Homo sapiens: one gene and its partners. The protein of the gene in region 1 purifies or fractionates together with the protein of each later gene. This does not show direct contact. Each region holds a gene or a part of one and is shown in the gene's direction. Other genes may lie near its edges.

What was found.
Region 2: the proteins of RBFOX2 (region 1) and PUM2 purify together in Homo sapiens (affinity purification with mass spectrometry; 3 studies listed by BioGRID and IntAct, with this or other methods). This does not show direct contact.
Region 3: the proteins of RBFOX2 (region 1) and PARL purify together in Homo sapiens (affinity purification with mass spectrometry; 3 studies listed by BioGRID and IntAct, with this or other methods). This does not show direct contact.

Annotation. Positions count from the first base shown.
Region 1 is NC_000022.11:36,025,823-36,033,691, reverse strand, and holds the start of RBFOX2 (RNA binding protein fox-1 homolog 2), read left to right. Parts: upstream 1-4,867; 5' UTR 4,868-5,266; coding exon 5,267-5,452; intron 5,453-6,608; exon of another isoform or gene 6,609-6,628; coding exon of another isoform or gene 6,629-6,640; intron 6,641-7,869. UniProt on the Homo sapiens protein: RNA-binding protein that regulates alternative splicing events by binding to 5'-UGCAUGU-3' elements. Prevents binding of U2AF2 to the 3'-splice site.
Region 2 is NC_000002.12:20,277,824-20,284,846, reverse strand, and holds part of PUM2 (pumilio homolog 2), read left to right. Parts: intron 1-1,360; coding exon 1,361-1,504; intron 1,505-1,615; coding exon 1,616-1,900; intron 1,901-6,027; coding exon 6,028-6,264; intron 6,265-6,389; coding exon of another isoform or gene 6,390-6,436; exon of another isoform or gene 6,437-6,545; coding exon of another isoform or gene 6,546-6,640; exon of another isoform or gene 6,641-7,023. UniProt on the Homo sapiens protein: Sequence-specific RNA-binding protein that acts as a post-transcriptional repressor by binding the 3'-UTR of mRNA targets.
Region 3 is NC_000003.12:183,881,860-183,889,006, reverse strand, and holds the start of PARL (presenilin-associated rhomboid-like protein, mitochondrial isoform 1 precursor), read left to right. Parts: upstream 1-4,126; 5' UTR 4,127-4,160; coding exon 4,161-4,285; intron 4,286-7,147. UniProt on the Homo sapiens protein: Required for the control of apoptosis during postnatal growth. Essential for proteolytic processing of an antiapoptotic form of OPA1 which prevents the release of mitochondrial cytochrome c in response to intrinsic apoptotic signals.

The DNA of each region.
Region 1 (7,869 bases):
ACTGCAACCTCTGTCCTCCTGAGTTCAAGCTATTCTCCTGCCTCAGCCTCCTGAGTAACTGGGATTACAAGTGCACGGCACCACACCCAGCTAATTTTTGTATTTTTTAGTAGAGACGGGGTTTTGCCATGTTGGCCAGGCTGGTCTCGAACTCCTGAGCTCAGGTGATCTGCCTGCCTCGGCCTCCCAAAGTGCTGGGATTACAGGCATGAGCCAGTGACCGAAAATATTTAATGTCCTCTTCCTCTGTAATGTTTCCTAACTACCTGCTTCTAAACAAATGGCTGCAGATGTATATAAAAGAAATGATCGGCCGGGCACGGTGGCTCACGCCTGTAATCCCAGCATTTGGGGAGGCCGAGGCGGGCGGATCATGAGGTCAGGAGATCAAGACCATCCTGGCTAACATGGTGAAACCCTGTCTCTACTAAAAATACAAAAAATTAGCCGGGTGTGGTGGTAGACGCCTGTAGTCCCAGCTACTCGGGAGGCTGAGGCAGGAGAACGGCGTGAACCCGAGAGGCGGAGCTTGCAGTCAGCCAAGATTGCACCACTGCACTCCAGCCTGCGCAACGGAGCAAGACTCTGTCTCAAAAAAAAAAAAAAAAGAAAAAAAAAAGAAAAGAAATGATCTGGTCTTTGTGCTGCCATGGATGCATTTTGCCTCTTCTATGATTTGTAGGCGTTTAACTCTCCTCTTTCTCCTTAAATACATAATGCTTGTTTCCAGGGCAGGGTCCAATTTTTCTTTGTTCTGCCTGGTCATTCAGACATTTCTATACTGCATTGCTCTGTTTCTAAGGGACTTGAGCGTTACCTGAATAACAAAAATTTGAGTCACTGGCAGCCCCGATCTCAAATCTCATTTCTTGCTGGGTCAGGGGACAGCCCAGGAAGATCTAACATCATTAAGATTTCAGTAGTTTGGCAAGGCAAGCAGGGAAGGGAGAATTCTCTTTTTTTGGAGAGAGAGTCTCACTCTGTAGCCCAGGCTGGAATGCAGTGGCGCGATATCGGCTCACTGCAACCTCTGCCTTCCAGATTCAAGCAATTCTACTGGCTCAGCCTCTTGAGTAGCTGGGATTACAGGCAGCTGTCACCACACCTGGCTAAATTTTTTGTATTTTTAGTAGAAATGGGGTTTCACCATTTTGCCCAGTCTGGTCTTGAACTCCTGACCTCAAGTGATCTGCCCGCTTCGGCCTCCTAAAGTGCTGGGATTACAGGTGTGAGCCACCATGCCCAGTTGGGAAGGGAGAATTCTTATGCTACCAGTTCAATAAGTAAAAATTTCAGAAGACCAACTGCTGATGTCCCTAGGTTAAAGAAAAAAAAAAAAAAGACAAAACCCGCTGTTGTTTCATAGGCCACCAGGAAATATCCTGGTTATCCCTCAAAGCCATACTGCTTGGTTGAACAGGATCAGGTTGTGGGGTACTGCCAAGTGGAAACCGCTGACTTAGGTTGGGGCTAATTCAGCACAAGAACAAGCTTGTAGGCACTTGGACTTCCACCTTGGTGGTCCAAATAATAATACTAAGAGATGTGTCAGGGCTGGGCGTGGTGGCTCACGCCTGTAATCCCAGCACTTTGGGAGGCTGAGGCGGGAGGATCAGTTGAGGCCAAGAGTTTGAGACCAGCCTGACCAACATGGTGAAACCCTGTCTCTGCTAAAAATACACAAAGTTAGCTGGGCATGGTGGTGCGTGACTCTAATCCCAGCTACTTGGCAGGCTGAGGCAGGAGAATCGCTTGAATCTGGGAGGCGGGGGTTGCAGTGAGCTGAGATTGGGCCACTGCACTCCAGCCTGGGAGACAGTGAGATCCTGTCTCAAAAAAAAGAAGAAGAAGAAGAAGAAAGAAGAAGAAAGAAGAAAGAAGAAAGAAGAAAGAAGAAAGAAGAAAGAAGAAGAAGAAGAAGAAGTTGTTTAAGGCTTCTCTTTCCAAGGCCCCTGGTTAAGCTTACTGTATCACTAACCAAATTAGTTGATGAATAATTACCACCTATTAAGCAGTTACTATGTTAGGCACTGTGCTAAGTGTTTACTTTTGTCCCATTTAATCCTTAGAACAACACTGTGACTATTATTGTTATCCTACAAATGAGGAATGGAAGGCTTAGTGAAACAAAGTAATTTGCCCAGCATAGTGGTTGCACCAAGGGGTTACTGGGGTGCTTTGCTTGCCGCATGTGAATCTCTAGCAGCCCCACTCAAGTCACCTTACATAATTAAAAAAAACCCAATAATAATGATAATGATATTCTTTGATCTTGACAATGAATGTTTTTTCACTCTCATTTAAAATGTGAATAAAGGTCAGGCCTGGTGGTTCATGCCTGTAATCCCAGTACTTCGGGAGGCCAAAGGGGGGGAATCACTTGAGGTCAGGAGTTCGAGACCAGCCTGGCCAACATGGTGAAACCCTGTCTCTACTAAAAATACAAAAAATTAGCCGGGCGTGGTGGTGGGCGCCTGTAATCACAGCTCCTTGGGAAGTTGAGGCACAAGAATTGCTTGAACCCAGGAGGTGGAGGTTGCAGTGAGCCGAGATCACACCACTGCACTCCAGTCTGGGTGACAGAGCGAGACTCCATCTGAAAAAAAAAAAGTGAATAAAGTGATAATGGTACTACTAATAAGCTATTATTAGTTAGCTATAAGTGTTAGCTGTAACACTTATGGAGCGCTTATCCTAAATCATTCCGTTCAAAGTTCTAAACGTGATAACATTAAATTCTTACAATAATCTTTTCAGGAAGGTATTATTGTTATCCTAATTTGCAGATGAAGAAACTGAGACACAGAGGGGGTAAGTAGCTGTCACAAGGCATCATGACTTGCAGGTGGCAGAGCTAAAACTCTGCTATTTTTACTGATTTATAACACAGCCTAAGTAATACAAACAATATGCTCAATACAACAACTCACCTTCAAGGCAAGTCCTCCCGACTTCCCTTCCAACCAGTCTGCAATCCCCAAACACCTTTTATATGGAAGTTCTTAGTCACCACTGGTCCCAGATTACGTGGGCAGGAGGTGGGAAGCCTGCGTTCTCATCTGGGTTGGTCTGACTCTGAAGCAGGGATCTTTACTGTTGTACTGTTCCAGCCCCAGCCAGGTTAAACCCAGGTTCAAAGGCCAAATCACACACTGGTTGGAAATGACCTTGGAAATCATCTAACCCAGCGTTTCTCAACCTCCGCACTATTGACATTTGGGGTTGGATAACTCTCCTGGGGGGACCGTCCTGTGCATGATAGGATGTCAAGCAACATTCCTGGCTTCTACACACTAGATGCCAGCAGCACCTCCCCACTGTAACAATCAAAAATGCCTTCAGTCGGCCAGGCGCGGCAGCTAACTCCTGTAATCTCAGCACTTTGGGAGGCCGAGGCAGGCGGATCACCTGAAGTCAGGAGTTCGAGACCAGCCTGGCCAACATGGTGAAACCCCATCTCTACTAAAAATACAAAAATTAGTTGGTGGCGCACACCTGTAGTCCCAGCTACTGGGGAGGCTGAGGCAGGAGAATCGCTTGAACCCAGGAGGCAGAGGTTGCAGTCAGCCGAGATCGCGCCACTGCACTTAAGCCTGGGCGACAGAGCGAGACTCTGTCTCAAAAAAAAAAAAAAAAAAAAAAAAAAAAATGCCTTCAGTCACTGACAAATGTGGGAGTGGAGGTGGTGGAATGGCAAAATTTCTCCTTGGTTGAAAGCCACTGATCCAAACCATCTCATTTTACAAATGATGGAGCTGAGGTCCAAAGAGATGAAGTAACTTGTTTAAGCTAGTTAGCAAAGCCAAGATTAGAATCCAGGTTATTCACGCAATATCCTTTTATTTCTATAACGTACAGGGCACGATATGGAACTCAGAGGAAGTCACTGCAGTCCTTGTCCTCACAGTCTGGTAGGGGAGAGAATCTATTGCACAGATATCTCTATCTCCACGAAGTTGGTAAGTCATAAAGTGCTCCTCAGGCAGCAAGGTACGAAGAAAGAGAATATGTTCTCGTGTTCTGAATTCCGGATCTGCCACTTTTTTGCTGCAGGATTTAACTAAGGTTCAGTTTCATCATCAATGAAATGGAGATCATGGTATCTACTTATATCACCAGTTTGAAACGGGTCTGTGGATGCATTGTGCAAACTCTAAAGCTCTTACAAACATCGGGTATTATTACTAACTTCATTAGGAATGTGAGTTATATTAGAGTAAAAGCTCTCAGAACTGGGGTGAACCATAGAGGGGTGGCTTCATTCCTCGACCTTCCAATTTGAGACATTTTTTCTTCTGCGGGAGGGGAAGCAGGCAAATAGCCTGCCTCTCACAGAGTGCCCATTCCCTCTCCGGGAACCAAGGTGCTCAGGCGAGTAAACTCAGGACTTAACTCTGTACAACTAGTACCGCAAGCAGGAGCCACTCCCTGGCCTTCGGGTCTCTCAAGCCCCGCCTGCTCCAGGATACGGCCCCGCCCAGAAAGGAGACAGACCCCGCCCCCCCCGCGCTGCCCCGCACTCCAGCCGCGCTGTGCCTCCAGGACAATCCCAGGCCCGTGCCGGAGATTCCCGAGCTTCCCCGATCGCTTCCCGGCCTCCCTCGGGCAGCCAGCGAGGAGACTACGGAGATTGCCGAGGGGGCCTGGCCCCGCCCCCCCCGCGGGCCGCCACCGCCCCCCTCGCCGTAGCCTCCCGCGCGGGCTGGAGTTCTACATCCCGGTCCCTCCCTCCCTCCCTCTTTCTCTCTCCCCGCCTTCCCGGTGCTGCCACAGTGGCGGGTCGGAGGATCCCGGCCAGTCAGCTCGTTCCTGCCTCGCGCCCCTCCTCCCCCCAAAATAAACAGCCCTCCCCACGCCTCGGGAGCCCGGACCGCCCCCTTCCTCCCTCGGCCGGCGTGCTGTGAGGGAGAGTGTGAGCCAGCGCGGCCGGTGGGCGAGCTCCGGGAGTGCGAGAGGCGGGGCGGCGCGGCGGGCCGGGCCGGGTTTCGCGTGTGCGTGCGGGGGCGCGAGCGAGTGCTCATCACGACCCGCCAGTGGCCCCGCGCCGACAACCCGGCGGGCGGGCGGGCGGGGAGCAAGCGGTCAGGCAAGGAGCGGCGGCCGCGAGGCGCGGAGGGGCGCGGAGTCCGCTCGCGCGCACGCACGCACGCACGCGGGGGCGGGGGCAGGCGCGCGCCCGCCTGTCGCGACAGTCGGGGCCGAGGCCCAGGGGGAGGTGGCCTGTCGCGGGTCGCCCGGCTCCCGGAGGCGAGGGGGGCGCGGGCGGATGGCGGAGGGCGCCCAGCCGCATCAGCCGCCTCAGCTCGGGCCCGGCGCCGCCGCCCGGGGCATGAAGCGGGAGTCGGAGCTGGAGCTGCCGGTGCCCGGAGCGGGAGGAGACGGAGCCGATCCCGGCCTGAGCAAGCGGCCGCGCACTGAGGAGGCGGCGGCCGACGGTGGCGGCGGGATGCAGGTGACCGCGCGGGACGGGGCGCCCAGTTATTGCGGGGGTGGGCGTGAGGGTCGACACCGGGCTCCCCGGCTTGGAGAGAGGGAGGGCCTCCGGGAGTCCTGGGTTGGAGGTGGGATGGGGGGCCATTCGGGGCCTGGTTGGAAGGTGGGGCGAGCTCGGGCTAGGAACGAAGGTTGCAGGACTGAACCTGGTGTGCCCGAGAGGGTCCTGATTCCTGAGGGGCCAGGAGGCACGACGAGTGGATAGGTTTTGGGGGGAAATCGAACAAGGTTGAGATGGATTCCATTTTTTCAAATCCTTCCTTAGTGCCTTGGGGTGGAGTGGAAGCCGGGAAATCCTGGCTTCTCTGGACTGAGTCGAGGAAAAGGAGATCTGGTGGGAAACCTCCCGAGAAGAGGGAGTACCTTTTGGCAGCCCTGGGCACACGCTGGGATGGGGAAGAGAAGTGGCATTTCAATGAGAGGAGTGAAAAGAAAACTCCTCGAGAGAGCCCCGAGGGGATGTGGCTGAGATTGTGGGTTAAATCACACAGAGTGTGAGAAGTACAAGGAGTTTGGTAATGTTATGGGGACACGGTGGTGCTCAGTCTCATTTACTTTGTGGAGCATACTAATGAGTCTGAAGGGAGACACTAGACATGTCCCTCCTGTTCTTTGCCAATTGCATTCTACATCACCAGGACACAAAATAGCTCTTTAATGTCCCGGGCTATAAAAAAAATTTTTTTATAGGGCTATTAGAAGACTGGATTCTCAATTCTGGATTGAAAGATAAACGTGGTTAATTTGGGTAGGGAATGGGAAAGGTATTGATGTCAGCTGACTTCATAGTTTTGAAGAAGACCTTGAAACCTTTGGAGGTTTTACGATTTGGTCTTTGCCCAGAAAATACTGCTATGACATGATGAGTCTCACCTACCAACAGTTGTGCAGACTTGTGCCTAATTCTCTCGGAGTCATAGGATGTTAGAGGGATGCTAGGAGGACTAGACATCATCTTTTCCAGGGGTTCTTAACCTGGGAAGACTTGGAAGATTCTTACTCATAGTAGGTGATGTGCACTTTTTGGTGGAGGAGAGTCAATAGTTTTCATCTTTGTTTTTTTTGGAGGAGATTCAAGTCCCAGCTTGTTTTAACCACCTTATTTTATAGATGGGGAATCAGAAGTCCAGAGAAGATGGTGACTTGGGTAAGGCCACCCAGTTAGCTAATAGTAAAACTAGAACTAGAAGCCTGGTCTTCTAATTCCTATTCCTGTGCTGTCTCCATTACACCACTCTTGGAAATCTCTGCAGTGCTAAAAGACTTCCTGTGCTCTGCTCCCTGCTTTTCAAGCCTCTGCCTGACTTCCTGTGTTAGGGACAGAGCTGTACTTAAGCCTAGCATGTTTGTTGTATGCTTCTTGGTCTCCTTTGCAGAGTTTACCCTGTTACTTCTGTTGATTTAGGTAAAGTGACCCTCTTGGTGTTTATTTTTGAATTCTTTTGTTTTGTTTGCCTGCTTTTATTTTCCATTAGAACTCTGTCAGGCAGAGGGATTGTGAGAAGTAAAAGCTCAGGGCCATGGCAAAAAAGACAGGAATGTGGGAGACTTCAGGTGAGGTGAGCTAATATTGGATGATAAGGAGGGAAGACTGGATGTAGGTGCTGGTGAGCAGGTTCTACTTGGTGTGTGTGTGTGTGTGTGTGTGTGTGTGTGTATGTATTCATTTATCATTTCTGTCAATCCTAGTTAATAGTGAGACCCCCGTCCCTTTCCCTCATTTACTCCTGGGGCCTATTATCTGTTGGTTGCCTTCAAACTGGCTAAAGATAGTGATATTTGGAAATGGAGCAGTGTGTAGGGACTTCGCAGGGGTGTGCAGAGGAAAGAGTGGTTAGGTCCTTGGGGGTACAAATTGGCAGCTGAGAGTTATCCCTCCGAGAATCCTTTTTTCACTTCTTGTATTTTATTTTCTTTCTATACATTCTCTTTTTTTTTTTTTTGCCCAGGCTGGAGTGCAATGGCACGATCTCGGCTCACTGCAACCTCCACCTCCACCTCCACCTCTGGGTTCAAGGGATTCTCCTGCCTCAGCTTCCTGAGTAGATGGGATTACAGGCGTCTGCCACCATGCCCAGCTAATTTTTCTTATTTTTAGTAGAGAGGGGGTTTCACCAGGTTGGCCAGGCTGGTCTCGAACTCCTGACCTCAGGTGATTCACCCACCTCAGCCTCCCAAAATGTTGGGATTACAGGTGTGAGCCACCACACCCGGCCTTCTATACATTCCCATTGTTGTAGGTCCATTCCCCTATGTCATACAGGTATTCAAATCATTGATTTAGGCCCTGCCTTCAACTAGCTGAATGGTTCTGCAGAAATCTTTCATTTTGGGGCCTCTGTTTTCCTTAGTTGTAAAATAAAGTATGTGTACAAG
Region 2 (7,023 bases), on another chromosome or scaffold:
CATGTGTGTCTTACAGGTGAAGTGTTTATCTGAGCACTGTTTATTATATTTGAGCTGAATTTAGCCTACTGTGTTTAAAGGCAATAAAATGTTCATGCTGCATTATCACTAATTTTACTGTAACTCTCACTTCTGCATAGTATTAACAAAATAAGACTTAAAAATTGATGTTGGAATGTATTTCAGTATAGTCTGTGTTTTTAAAAACTTCTTAAAGGACCAGACACAGTTGGGAGGCTGAGGCGGGAGGATCGCTGGCCCAGGAGTTAAAGACTAGGCTAGGCAACATAGTGAGGCCCTATTTCTGTAGAAAATAAAAATAAATTATCCGGACCTGGTGGCATGTACCTGTAGTCCCAGCCACTTAGGATGCTGAGGCGGGAGGATCATGTAAGCCCAGGAGTTTGAGGCAGCAGTGAGCTATGATTATGCCACTGTGCTCCAGCCTAGACAACAGAGCAAGACAGCACTCTTTAAGGGAAAAAAAAGTTGCCAATGCATGTTTTGCTGATAGTTGTAAGGTTATTGGGCCTCAGTTTTTTGTCGCTTTATAAGGCAGCCTTTCTAAACTGAGTTCCAGAAAAGAATAAAGCCTTATTACTGCTCTGAAGTATCCACAGTGTATATAGCTAACTTCTCTCCTGTGATTCCAGAGTGATGCTTGTTATATACCATCCTTAGGAGAATTAACAAAATACTTACTTAAATCATTTTCTGTGTTTTTGGTTCAACAGAGAATCTCCATTGAGAAAGGCTGCTAAGAAGTTAACTTTATTCTCCACTATTTGTGAAGATTACCTACCTTGTGCTTAAGGCTACAATAAAACTAAAGCCTGTGTGATTTTTAATTAAACTCTAGCTTGAGAATCTTCACAAATAGAATGTTTGGCTTAAGTTTTTAAAGAGATGATTACAAATGAAAATCTAACGGAATGCTGGTAATGAGGCACTTGATTTTGAACTTCAATGAAATTGCACAGTAAACATTTCGTACAGTGTTCTACCTCGCTACTCCCAGTTTTTTTAATCCTTCTTCTTCGAAGGGCTAAATGGTGATTTTTTTTTTCTAATATCAGCCCTTCCTTCATAGCCTGTAGTTTCTATATTAAGGAAAATACCTCTTCATTTTGTGGCCCCTGAGTAAAATTTAGAGAAAAAATGTTTAATGACAGTCTATTACTTTTTCATATATTTAGTAAGACCTTGTCAAATGTGTTGCTTTGCATATATTAACTAAGGATTTTATAGTAATGGTACAAATAGCTGTGTTGTCTAGTTGAAAAAATACAAATGCAGGGAAAAACAAATATGCATGTTTTTGTAATAAGTGCTTTCATTAGTAAACCTTTATTTTATTTAGGCTATCAAGTACTAGCTCCAACTGCCTATTATGATCAGACTGGTGCCTTAGTGGTTGGCCCTGGAGCAAGGACTGGCCTTGGAGCTCCAGTTCGGTTAATGGCTCCAACACCTGTTTTAATTAGTTCAGCAGCAGCACAAGCTGGTAAGTGTAACTGACATTTTTAGGATAATATTTTTCTGGTGTTGAGATACCATTTTTAAAATACAGAATTTTCTGGGTGGTTTAAAGAAGTATCTGAAATTTATTTTACAGCAGCAGCAGCAGCAGCTGGAGGAACTGCAAGTAGCCTTACAGGCAGCACAAATGGTCTGTTTCGGCCAATTGGCACTCAGCCACCACAGCAGCAGCAACAGCAGCCAAGCACTAATCTGCAATCTAATTCATTTTATGGAAGCAGTTCTTTGACTAATAGCTCCCAGAGTAGTTCTTTATTTTCTCATGGACCTGGTCAACCTGGAAGTACATCTCTTGGCTTTGGAAGTGGTAACTCTTTGGGTGCTGCTATAGGCTCAGCCCTCAGTGGATTTGGTTCATCAGGTAAGTTTGTTTTTACGATGAGTGTACTCTGCTAAGTGGAAGAGGTATATGAGTGTGTTTAACATTAAAATAAGCAATAATAGCATGTAGGATAGGAAGGACAGGAATAAAGTATTGGACTACTGGTTTAATTTGTAGGAAAAAAAAATCCTGCAAATCTTTTCAACACTCACCAATGTTTAACTCACTATAGGCAGCCTGTTCTTTACTCATATATAATACATTTCCTTTTTCCCTGGCTCTAGGAATTGATTACTGTAATTTTTGTTTTAGTAGGGTTTATTTGGGTCAATATATTATTCACTAATTATTAGCTCATCTTCATTCACTACATAATGTTTGTGGAGGCAAATATTTTGCCGTCTTAAATTTTTGGTATTTTAAAGCAGTTATCTTTGTGTCCTTATTAGATGGTTTATTCTTATTAAATGCTGGTAGTTTATTACAGTTTTTAAATTTGGCCTAATATAAAAAATACATATGTGTATGTATAAATACTGAAATGTTCTACACAGAATCCCCTAAGAAGCTACCAGTATGGTTATCTTTTAGATTAAATAAGTTAGCCTTTGTCACTAAAAATTCACTTAAAAGGGTATCTATTCATGTATCTTAGCTTTATATAACACTTAACAAATCAAAATTTTAAATAGCTTCACTAAATAATTGACCCACTCAAACTGGTTCCTGGATCCTGTGGTAGAGGAAGAACTAAGTGAAATCAGAAGAGGCCCACGTTGACTTCTTGTTGATACACTTGGTGTTTTCTGTGAGGTTTCCACAGTACTCAGGAAACATTAGGGAAAAAACAGCTGACCCAGTTCTATCGGTGCAGCTGGCAGCTTTTACTTCATGAGGATAGGACTATTTGGACCTCAAGAGATTTTCTGTTTCTATAACATAACTTGCTACAGTCCTTAATATCTGTTTCTGATCTCTTTTCTTACCACATCAAATTATATTCTTTTCTGGTGTGGAAAATGGCAGAACTAACACATGCCAGGCATTATTAACAATGCTTGCCAGTTTTCTAAGGGAGTGTCTTCTGAACTTTTATCATTCATATATACAGGAAGGATGGTCTAGAACAGCCACAAACTTTTAGATGGCAGAATCTTTTTTCATTTATTGTAATGAAATACAATAAGTGGATGTCATATTGGACTGACACAAAATTATCTGAAGACTGCTCATAAGAATTTCTGAGGGAAAATCCAGTGAACATGGGGATTGTTAAATCTTTTCAATTTTGTACTTGAGTTTTTTCATTGCTTTTGGAGTTGTGTATCTCTTTGTCCACCTCACGCACTCCCATAGGACTCATTCCTTGTTTCTAACACAATTGGGACATTTTCTCCAAAGAATCCTAAATATTCTGAGGAAAACTGGAAGAACAAGTAACATAAAAAACAAACTTGTGGAAATAGTTTTTAAATTATAAATTGTAGGCCCTAAATAATTCAGAAAAAAGAGAGCATTGATTAAACCCCATGTTTCCTTTCTCACGTAGTATGTCACTGATCGTCTGGTTCAGATTTCTAGGCCCCTACTCAATTCTTTCAAATTTCCATTTGTTTCTTAGTTAAGGCTGTTTTCCCCCTTTCAGGAATTGATTGACATGAACATTTTGTCCACTACAGATGCCCTGTTTCCCCAAAACTAACCTTCACACCTCCATTATTTACAAGCATGGCTTACTTAATTCTGACTCCAATCTGTAAGAGCTTCATTTTACCTTGCTTTAGAGAGCATTAGTGATTGCCACCCCTGAATGCCAGTAAAGAGTCCATCGTATCTCTCCTCTTGGGCATTTTGTGGGAGTTTTTTCAAGTGCTATATATATGGACTCTTACAAGTTTGCACACTGCCTTTTCACATTATGGCAATTACATACTTACATGAGCTCTAAAACATAATATGGTTGTGTGCCTGTATACACATATACAAGTAACATACACAGTCCTTCTCTTACCTCTATGATGAAATTATTAATGTTTAACAGTGTTAAATACCCCATTTTATGATATAGTTGGCCAAGAAGCCTAAACATCGTAACATATAATTTAAATCATCTTTTCTATGACCTGTTATTTTTTAAAGTGTTGTTACAATTGAAAGTTTATAATTTAGCCTTTTTTCACAGTCGATGAATGATTAGCAGTCTGTCTACCCTCTTAGATATTTTAGGTACACTTTGTTTCATATCTCATAGTCATACTGTTGGAGATAATTTAGACATATAGTAAAACTTAAAGAGCCAGCTTCTTTATATTTAAGGTTATTTCTGAATTATTTTTAAATGTTTGGCTTGACTTTTCCTTTTTGGAGGAAAATAATATTGCATGTGTCAAAACTGGTTTCTTGGATTATTTGTCAGGGGAATAATGCTGCTCTTATTAGAGCTGTTGTCTTTTCATTGTCAGTTAAATTGTTTTCTGAAATAAATAGGAATTTAAAATGTAGCCATATTTTAGAAAAATCACTTTGACAGTGTCCTTTTAAATTAGCATAGTTAATGTAGCATACATTGCCAGTTTTACCAAAACCAACTCAAGAATAACTGTTTATTACATGTGCTTATAATTCACTTTTGCAATAAAAATGCATATAGACACCTAGTATTTTCTTACTATGATATCTTAAAATGTAAAATCTTCAACAAAACATGATCAGTCTCAGAAACTGCATTGGCTGGTATAAAAGGTTGAATAGCATTATAATCTTTTGCCTAATGTGGTAGCATAAGCCTGGTTTTTTTACCCCTTTATAGAATTTTGAATTTGGCAAAACCAACGTAATTAAGTTTTCCGTCTGTATTATACTCTTACCTTGGTCTACCCATGATGTACTCTCCTTAATTTTTTTCTTTATACCCTGTATGACCTATTTATATATGACTTGTGCTTAAATAAGATTTAATAGAAACTTAGATCCCTTGAAAAGCATTGCCATATTGGTCCGAATATAGAGCTTGTCATTTAAAAATGTATTTGGCAGGTTCAGAAATGTGGTTTGAAATTTTCTTAGATGTAAAAGTTATTCAGTTAAAAGAGGCTAGTGCTTAGAAATAGGAAGGAAACGTACTTGAATATATGGGCTTTAAGTGAGACTTGAGAACTGAGAGTTTGGACAGCCCTTAGAGATGCATGCTGTGGAATTTGATTATCCAGACAGGTGTTGATTAACAGCCAGATCTTGATTAGCTCTTCTGAGCATGTATAGCTCACCAGGGCCTACATGACCTTTATTTTCTGCACTATAAAAGGAAAAAGGATTAGAAGGATAATAGTTACATTTGATATTAAGTAAAAATTTGGTATGCATTGTATTAAGGGATGTAAAGTAAGAGAAATTGTGTATTATCAAATGACAAAAACCTGATCAGCCTTGAGTAAGGGGCTCAGGAGGCAGTAGTACTAGCATCTTAGGAGTAGAAGAGTCCTGTGGGATAAGTGAAAGTATGTCTTTGGTTTGATAACAGTGAGAGCTATTAATTTTAGAAAAGTCGAGTTACTTTGTAATGTAGTTAAAGAACAAGGGAGAATGCGTAGTGTAAAAAATACTGTTGAGTTAGCTGCTCACTGTATTTCACAACTGATCAATATTCGGGCCAATATGGACTTAAAGGGCTATGTTTTGAACACAGCTAGATGACAAATTAAATATGAATGGTGAAGGAAATGTACTAATTATTTATTCATATAATCTTTTCTTGGCATTGAGTTAAAGTCTAAGAAGCAGGTTTCAGAGATTAGGATACTATCAGAATTTAAACTTAATGGAATTTAATCTCTAGCATGTCCTAATGCAGACAACTTGCAATTCCAGGGTTTATAAATCATACCAGGGTATTAAAGCACAGTAATCAGATGTGTCAGTGGTAAATATGTGTGAAATAATGAATCATATGACTGCTCTGTTAAGTATTTGGTTCTTTATTGGGGTGCATTTATACCCTTTTATGATTAATAAGTTAGTATATATAGTTATCACAGTAATTATCTTCTCCAAAATGTTTCTAAAAATAATTATTGTGATCACTTCTGTTATTGCCCAGCGAGAGTTGGGGATAGATTTTATTCAGTTAACACTGTATGTAATTAGGGTTTTTTTTATTTCTTCTTCAGTTGGCAGTTCTGCAAGTAGTAGTGCCACAAGGAGAGAGTCTCTATCTACTAGCTCTGACTTGTACAAAAGATCTAGTAGCAGCCTAGCACCCATAGGGCAACCATTTTACAATAGTCTGGGATTTTCCTCCTCTCCAAGTCCAATAGGCATGCCTCTGCCAAGCCAAACTCCAGGACATTCACTTACGCCACCGCCATCACTTTCATCACATGGATCCTCATCCAGTTTGCATTTAGGTAAAAAAAAAACCAAAACCCTTTTTATTTGTATGTATACATGTATGTGTGTTTGTGTGTGTGTTTATAATATATGTAAAATATTTAATGTTGGTTAAAACATGCCAAATTGCTTTTGCTTTTAGATATTAGTCTTTTGAAAAAGTTCTACTTTCCTGAAAATTCAAAGTGAGGGTCTAATGTACAATAAGGTAAAGACCCCCCTATTGTTTCTTATGTTTTTTTTATGAAATATAATGGTGTGTTTTTTCTTGTCTGTGCTTTTGATTTGTGTGTTTTAGAGCATCTGAAAAGTCAACTATATAAACATAATAGTGAAAGAGAAATTTCACTATCAAAAGATTTGCACACCATAAGAAAAACATTAGTTACATAGCTACTGAACTAGGTTAGTACACTGGTTTTTGCTTTGGTCTTTCTATGCCTGGCCATTTTACCAGATAATTATTTCAGTGAATTTGAATTTAGTGTATTTGTCACTTAAGGAAGCTTATAGGCTTGGGCCATATACTTCTTTTTTGGATATGTTAAAGAAAAAAAATGTTTTAGGCTTGTTGTACCCCTGAAGTTGGAGCATTGAGAACTTTGTTTATATTTGTATATTAAAATTGTTCCCACCCCCAAATTATTAAATTGGTGATTACCTTTTTTCCCTCTCCAGGAAGTATTTATCCATGTAGATAATACGTTTTGAAGGGCTTTGGATATCAGGGGCTGTGTATGAATCCCTATCTTGTCAAAGAAATTATTTTTTTAAAA
Region 3 (7,147 bases), on another chromosome or scaffold:
TTGAACTCCTTGCCTCAAGTGATCCACCCACCTCGGCCTCCCAAAATACTGGGATTACAGGCATGAGCCCCTATGCCCCGTCATGGCATTAGAATCTTTTATGATAGGCAGCACACAAGCCTGTGCTCTCTAGGGTGATATTATCTTTCTTCCAAGGTTATAAGCCAACTGCCCTTTGCTCTTGAGGAAAACATCTCTACCTTTCAAGATTGTTCGCTTGTTTACTATAAAAACTCACTATTAAACAGTAGATTCCCCAGGCTCAGTATTCTTTGGTTGAGATGCAAATCCACTGCATGTTCTTCATCCATTTGGCTCATGGCATTGCCACCATGGGACTTGGAGAACATGCCGTGGTAATATAAAGTGTTTTGTCTCTGACCCAGGAGTCTCCTGTCTTTTGCCAACATCCAATCTTTTAGCTTGCAAATAGGGTAAAATCAAATCCCAGACTTGACACCTCTGATATAACCAAAGTGAATTTATTTTTTAGAAACTGATGTGTATTTTCCATCAACGTTATTTCCATGTTGCTTAAGAGCCTGTGCAAGAACAGCTTAAGACCATTCAGTGGTTGTTTCTACCCATTCAGTGGCCTGAGCAGTGGGAGCTGCAGACCAGTCTTCTGTGGCAGGCTGAGCACTCCAGTCTTCAGTAGGGACCTGATGAATAGGCACAGAGGGCACCTGTACACCATCAGACCAGTCTCCAACCTCAGGCTGAATAGCGGTGAACTCAGGAGCTGGAGCAGTCCATTTGCCCTGAAATTCCTCCTTGGTCACAGTCTTTTCAGCAGCAACCTGCTCCTCTTTTCCAATCTCTTCAGGATCTCTGTAGAAGTAGAGATCAGGCATGACCTCCCATGGGTGTTCGAGGGAAATGGTGCCACACACGCGCAGAACTTCCAGGGCCAGCATCCACCAGCTCGGACCCACTGAGGGAGCTCCCTTGTTGTTGCATGTGATGGCAATGTCCACATAGCGCAGAGGAAAATCTGTGTGACATAGAGCAATGGTAGGTAGGTTAACATAAGATGTCTCTGTGAGAGGCTGGTGGTCAGCCCTGGGATCAGTAACCACTAGAAGCCGTGGCTCCCTGAAGGCTGCCTGGGTCTGGCTAGTGAAGGTTCCAGGAGTGAAGCGGCCAACAATTTGAGTGGCTCCAGTGGCAGCAGCAAACTTCAGCACAGCCCTCTGGCCAGTATTGCTAGAGGACATGACACTGACATCAACAGGGTTTTTAAAGGCAGCGATGGCACGAGCTGCCAGCAGAAACTTCTTGCTTCTCCCAGGTCCTCTTCAGATGTAGGATGTAGACGCCATCACTTTTCTTCTTACAGATGTGCTACTCCATTTGGAAGTCAAGGTTGGTACCACCTAAGTGGGTTCCTGCTGCAAGGAACTTAAGGACATCCTCCTCCTTCATTTGCAGGACATCAAGGGCTCTAGACATTGTGAAAGTTTCCCTTTAAGTTACAATGAGAATTGTAGGGACCAGCCCCACAGGGTCGGTGGGTCTCTCCCCACATGCAGAGACGAGAGAGCGTAGAAATAAAGACACAAGACAAAGAGATAAAAGAAAAGACAGCTGTGCCCGGGGGACCACTACCACCAAGACACGGAGACCGGTAGTGGCCCCAAATGCCAGGCTGCACTGATATTTATTGGATACAAGACAAAGGGGCAGGATAAGGAGAGTGAGCCATCTCCAATGATAGGTAAGGCCACGTGGGTCACGTGTCCACTGGACGGGGGCCCTTCCCTGCCTGGCAGCCGAGGCAGAGAGAGAGAGGAGACAAAGAGAGAAACAACTTACACCATTATGAGAGACTTTTAGTACTTTCACTAATTTGCTACTGCTATCTAGAAGGCAGAGCCAGGTGTACAGGATGGAACACGAAGGCAGACTAGGAGCGTGACCACTGAAGCACAGCATCACAGGGAGACGGTTAGGCCTCCGGATAACTGCGGGAAAGCCTGACTAATGTCAGGCCCTCCACAAGAGGTGGAGGAGTAGAGTCTTCTCTAAACTCCCCCAGGGACTACTAAGTAGCAGGTGTTTTTCCTTGACATGCTACCGCTAGACCACAGTCTGCTTGGCAACGGGCATCTTCCCAGACGCTGGCATTACCCCTAGACCAAGGAGCCCTCTGGTGGCCCTGTCTGGGCATAATAGAAGGCTCGCACTCTTGTCTTTTGGTCACTCCTCACTATGTCCCCTCAGCTCCTGCCTCTGTATGGCCCGGTTTTTCCTAGGTTATGATTATAGAGCGAGGATTATTATAATATTGGAATAAAGAATAATTGCTACAAACTGATGATTAATGATATTCATATATAATCACGTCTATGATCTAGATCTAGTATAACTCTTGTTGTTTTATATATTTTATTATACTGGAACAGCTCGTGCCCTTGGTCTCTTGCCTCGGCACCTGGATGGCTTGCCGCCCACAGAGAATCTAGAACAATGCCGTATGGGCCCCTCTCTGGGTTGTGTGGAAAAGGCGTGAATTTATTTTAGTTTTTCAAACAAGTCGTGCGCTGGGAGACATCACAAATGCTATTCTTTCTGAGGAACACTTCAATCCTCTTCTCTTGGTGACCTCTATCAGTTTCTCTGGGAAGCCTTCTCCCTGAGCCTCCCATGCCCCTTCCTTCAATTGGGCTATATCCCCCCTCTCTAGACTCCTACAGAGCCTTCTCCCCCAATACAATAGAATCTTTGTGAGGTCAGATATAGTGTCTTCTCAATTGTATCCCCAGGTTTAACATATCACCTGACACACTGTAGGTGCTTAATAAGAGCTTATGGAATGAATGAAGTGCTATTGCAGAGATAAGCATAAAGCGGTATGTGAGTACAAAGGAAGGGAATCTAAATTGGAGTGGAGGTCTGGGAAAGGCCTCCTGGAAGAGGTGACACTTGAGGCTGACCTGAAGGACAAGTCGGTTAGATGTTTCAAGTGGTGAGAACGGTAGCATGAATGCTCAGCAGTGGGAACGCGGATGGTGCCTTTGAGTAATGGCCAATGACTGTATGGCTGCAGCTAGGGTCGGGGGGAATGGAATGGCAGGGAATCAAGCTAACTGACAGGTAGTTGAGGGATGGATTATGAAAAAGTGAAAGCCCGCTTTTCATTTCAGGCTTGGATTTTGTGTTTATTTACTTATTTATTTATGAGAAAGGGTCTCACTCTGTTGCCCAGGCTGGCACGATATCGGCTCACTGCAACCTCCCGAGTTCAAGTGATTCTCCCACCTCAGCCTCTCGAGTAGCTGGGATTACAGGTTTGCGCCACCACGCCCAGCTAATTTTTGTATTTGTATTTGTAATTTTTTTGAGACGGATCTCGCTCTGTCACCTAGGCTGGAGTGCAGTGGTCCAATCTCGGCTCACTGCAACCTCCGCCTCCCAGGTTCAAGCAATACTCCTGCCTCAGCCAACTGAGTAGCTGGGATTACAGGCCCCTGCCACCATGCCCGGCTAATTTTTGTATTTTTAGTAGAGACGGGGTTTCACCATGTTGGCCGGGCTGGTATCGAACTCCTGACCTCAGGTGATCCGCCGGCCTCGGCCTCCCAAAGTGCTGGGATTAAAGGGGTGAGCCACCCCGCCCGATAGGCTTGGACTTTGTTAAAGGCATACAGAATAACACGAAGTGGTGAGATGCAGAAAAAAGTAGTAATTTAAGAAAACTTGGCTTGCCACGTTGGTTCCTCTAGGGACCAGCCCTGCAACTCCGGGCAAGTCCTATCCCCTCTGACCAGAGGCAAAGTGAAACAGTGATGACATCTACCTCTAGCAGTGCTGTGACGATTAAATGCGATCTTAGGCAAAGCGCCTGGTATGTGCCGTTACTCGAAAAAATGACAGTTGTCCCTCTTCGCTCTGGCCCCATCCTCCTCATCTGCAAATGCCGGGAGGCCGGGCCACTCTCGCAGGTCGCTCCCGGAGCCAGCTGAGCAGTGGGAGGGGAAGCGGTGGGACAGAAGGGCGCCAGCCAGTCGTCCGGGCACCGTGGCTGGTTCGGCTGCCGCTCAGCCGCGCGGGGGCGCTCTAGACTGCTCCTCGTGCTCTATGGTGTTGCCTTCGCCCCGGAAGTAGTTGCGCAGCTGGGGTTGGTAAGGTCGGGCCATGGTGGGGCAGAGGTTGGGAAGATGGCGTGGCGAGGCTGGGCGCAGAGAGGCTGGGGCTGCGGCCAGGCGTGGGGTGCGTCGGTGGGCGGCCGCAGCTGCGAGGAGCTCACTGCGGTCCTAACCCCGCCGCAGCTCCTCGGACGCAGGTAATAGCCGCCGCGCTCTGGTCTTCTCGCCTCTTGGTCCCTGAGCTCTGGCCGTGTATCCTCGGGGGCGGAGGCCGTCTGGGCCTCTTGTGCTGGCCCCAGCTCACCCCCTTCACCTTACCTGCCCCTTCTCTCTCCTCTCTCGCCTCCGTCCAGTCCTCGCTTCTCGCTCCCCTTGCCCAGCCCAGCCCCCCGCGAGCCTGCGCTTTCTCCTTTCCCATTGGGAAGGACGTGACTGGAAGGGGAACTAAGCTGAGGGTTCATTGCGTGCCACACTTCATAATCGCGAGTGGAAACTGTTGAGCCAGTTTCTGAAGTGAAGAAGTTAGTACAGCTGGCAGAATGGCGGTTTTTATTCTTTTTCCATCTAATTATAAAGGTTGTGTTCCATTACAACCAGTCGCCTTCTTTAGCTTGTGATCTAAGGGAGGACGAAGTCTGATGGAAGGTATCACTTTGTGTCTGGCAAAGTCGTAGGAGAGGCTTTATTGTTGAATTGAGACAGTGGAAGATTTCGTTTCCGGTTGATTTGGAAAGAAAACTGCCGAACCTTCCGAGTAGAAGTGTGAAGCGTATGGTTGATCAGTATTGCTGATTTTTGCATCACAGTAATTCATTTCTAATTTGAGAGAGAAGAGAGAAATTCCTCACCTGTTTAAGAATCTGATGTGCATTTGGCTTTGAAAATTTTCCTCCTCTTTTGTTCAAAACTTCATTCCTTCCAATTTCTGACTTGGTTAGATGGGTGCCTCGAATCCACCTGATTGCTGATAAGAAACATTGTTTATCAACACGTGGGATAGTCAGTGGTAAATAATCGAGGCTCTAATGTGGCGGAGCCATTGCCTAATCTCAAGGATCACCTGAAGAGTTTGTATGGATTTTATGTCCCAGGCCTCACCCCAGTCCTCCCAAATCACAATCAGGAGAGGGGTGGGTGGAGTGGAAGAACCTATATGTCCGACAAGCATTCCAGGTGAATTTTATCAGGGACTTGTGAAAACTTTACATACATTGTATCTTCATACACTAACATAGATCTGTCAGGCACTAATCTTAAACTCCTGGGGAGGTGGAAAATGAGGACAGATGGAGGTGGTAATCCCATTTGAGATTGCATGGTTTAAGGGGGAAAGAAAAGATTAATACTGGCCGGGCGTGGTGGCTCACACGCCTGTAATCCTAGCACTTTGGGAGGCTGAGGCAGGTGGATCACCTGAAGTTAGGAGTTCAAGACCAGCCTGGCCAACATTGCAAAACCCCGTCTCTACTAAAAATACAAGAAATTAGCGGGGCATGGTGGCGGGCGCCTGTAATCCCAGCTACTCGGGAGCCTGAGGCAGGAGAATGGCTTGAACCTGGGAGGCGGAGGTTGCAGTGAGCCGAGATCGTGCCATTGCACTTCATCTTGAGCAACAGAGTGAGACTCCATGTAAAATAAATAAATACTGTACGTGTATTAGGAAGCAACAGGAAGTGTGTTAAACATTTAAGATTTATGTACACATCACCGTATTGGTTTTAGGAAGGGGAAGCAAAAGAAAACTAATGAGCCTCTAGTAAAAATTGAGTATAAAGACCATTTGAAACAGTGAACCAGAAACACATGAAATGTTGAAGATTAGTATTTAATGTCTGAAAAGCTTGCCATTTGTATAGAAAGTTTGAAAATGACATTTTCGTGGTTGCATAAAAAATATACATGAGAATGTAGGCCTGAAATAGAGCATTTGCCTCTGGTAATAAGTTCTTAAAGTTAATAGTATCAGTTTACCTTATATATAACCTTTATTAGCTATATGTTGACTTCTTATGGCTTTGAAATTAGCGTGCAGAAGAATGACCCAATCCGTGTCATTTGATGTATTAATAATAGGCCTGAAGTGGGACCAGGAATTTGCATTTTACAAGCACTCTAGGTGGTGATACTAGGGTCTGAAAACTACTGCAGGCCCAAGGCGGCCCACCAGCCAAGAATGGTTTACATTTTTAAAGGATTGTAAAACAAAAATAGTAATATGTGACAGATTTCAGTAGTCCACAAAGACCGAAATATCTTCTATCTGGCCTTTTACACAAAAGGGGAAAAAAATCTTATTTGGGCTCCTTGTAAACTTTACTGTTACCAAGGTTTGAGGCTTGAAAGTGGAAACCTGTTTAATTTGCCAGTTATATGAAACTATCCAAGGGAAGAAAATAGTTGAATTGTAACACTTAACATTTTATATTTTTAAAAAACTTGCCGTTTGTATGGAAAGTTTATATTGAGATGATAGTCTCTCTCTTTCTCTCTCTCTCTCTCTCTATATATATGTGTGTGTATATGTGCATATATATGTATATATGTGTGTGTATATATGTGCATATATGTATATATGTGTGTGTATATATGTGTATATATGTGTGTATATATGTGTGTGTATATATATGTGTGTGTGTATATATATATATAAATATATATATATATATATATATAAATATATATATATATATATATATTTTTTTTTTTTTTTTTTTAGAGACATTGTCTTGCTCTGTTTCCCAGGCTGGAGTGCAGTGGCACGATCTCAGCTCACTGCAACTTCCGCCTCCCGGGTTCAAGCGATTCTCCTGCCTCAGCCTCCCGAGTAGCTGGGATTACAGGCATGCACCACCATGATGCCTAGCTAAGTTTTGTGTTTTTTGTAGAGACGGGGTTTTGCTGTGTTGGCCAGGCTGGTCTCGAACTCCTGGTCTCAAGTGATCTGCCTGCCTCTGCCTCCCAGTGTTGGGATTACAGGCTTGAGTCACCATGCCTAGCCTCAAAATATCTTTAAGTAAGATACTTGACATATTAGTCAATCGTATATATTATATTTTGTT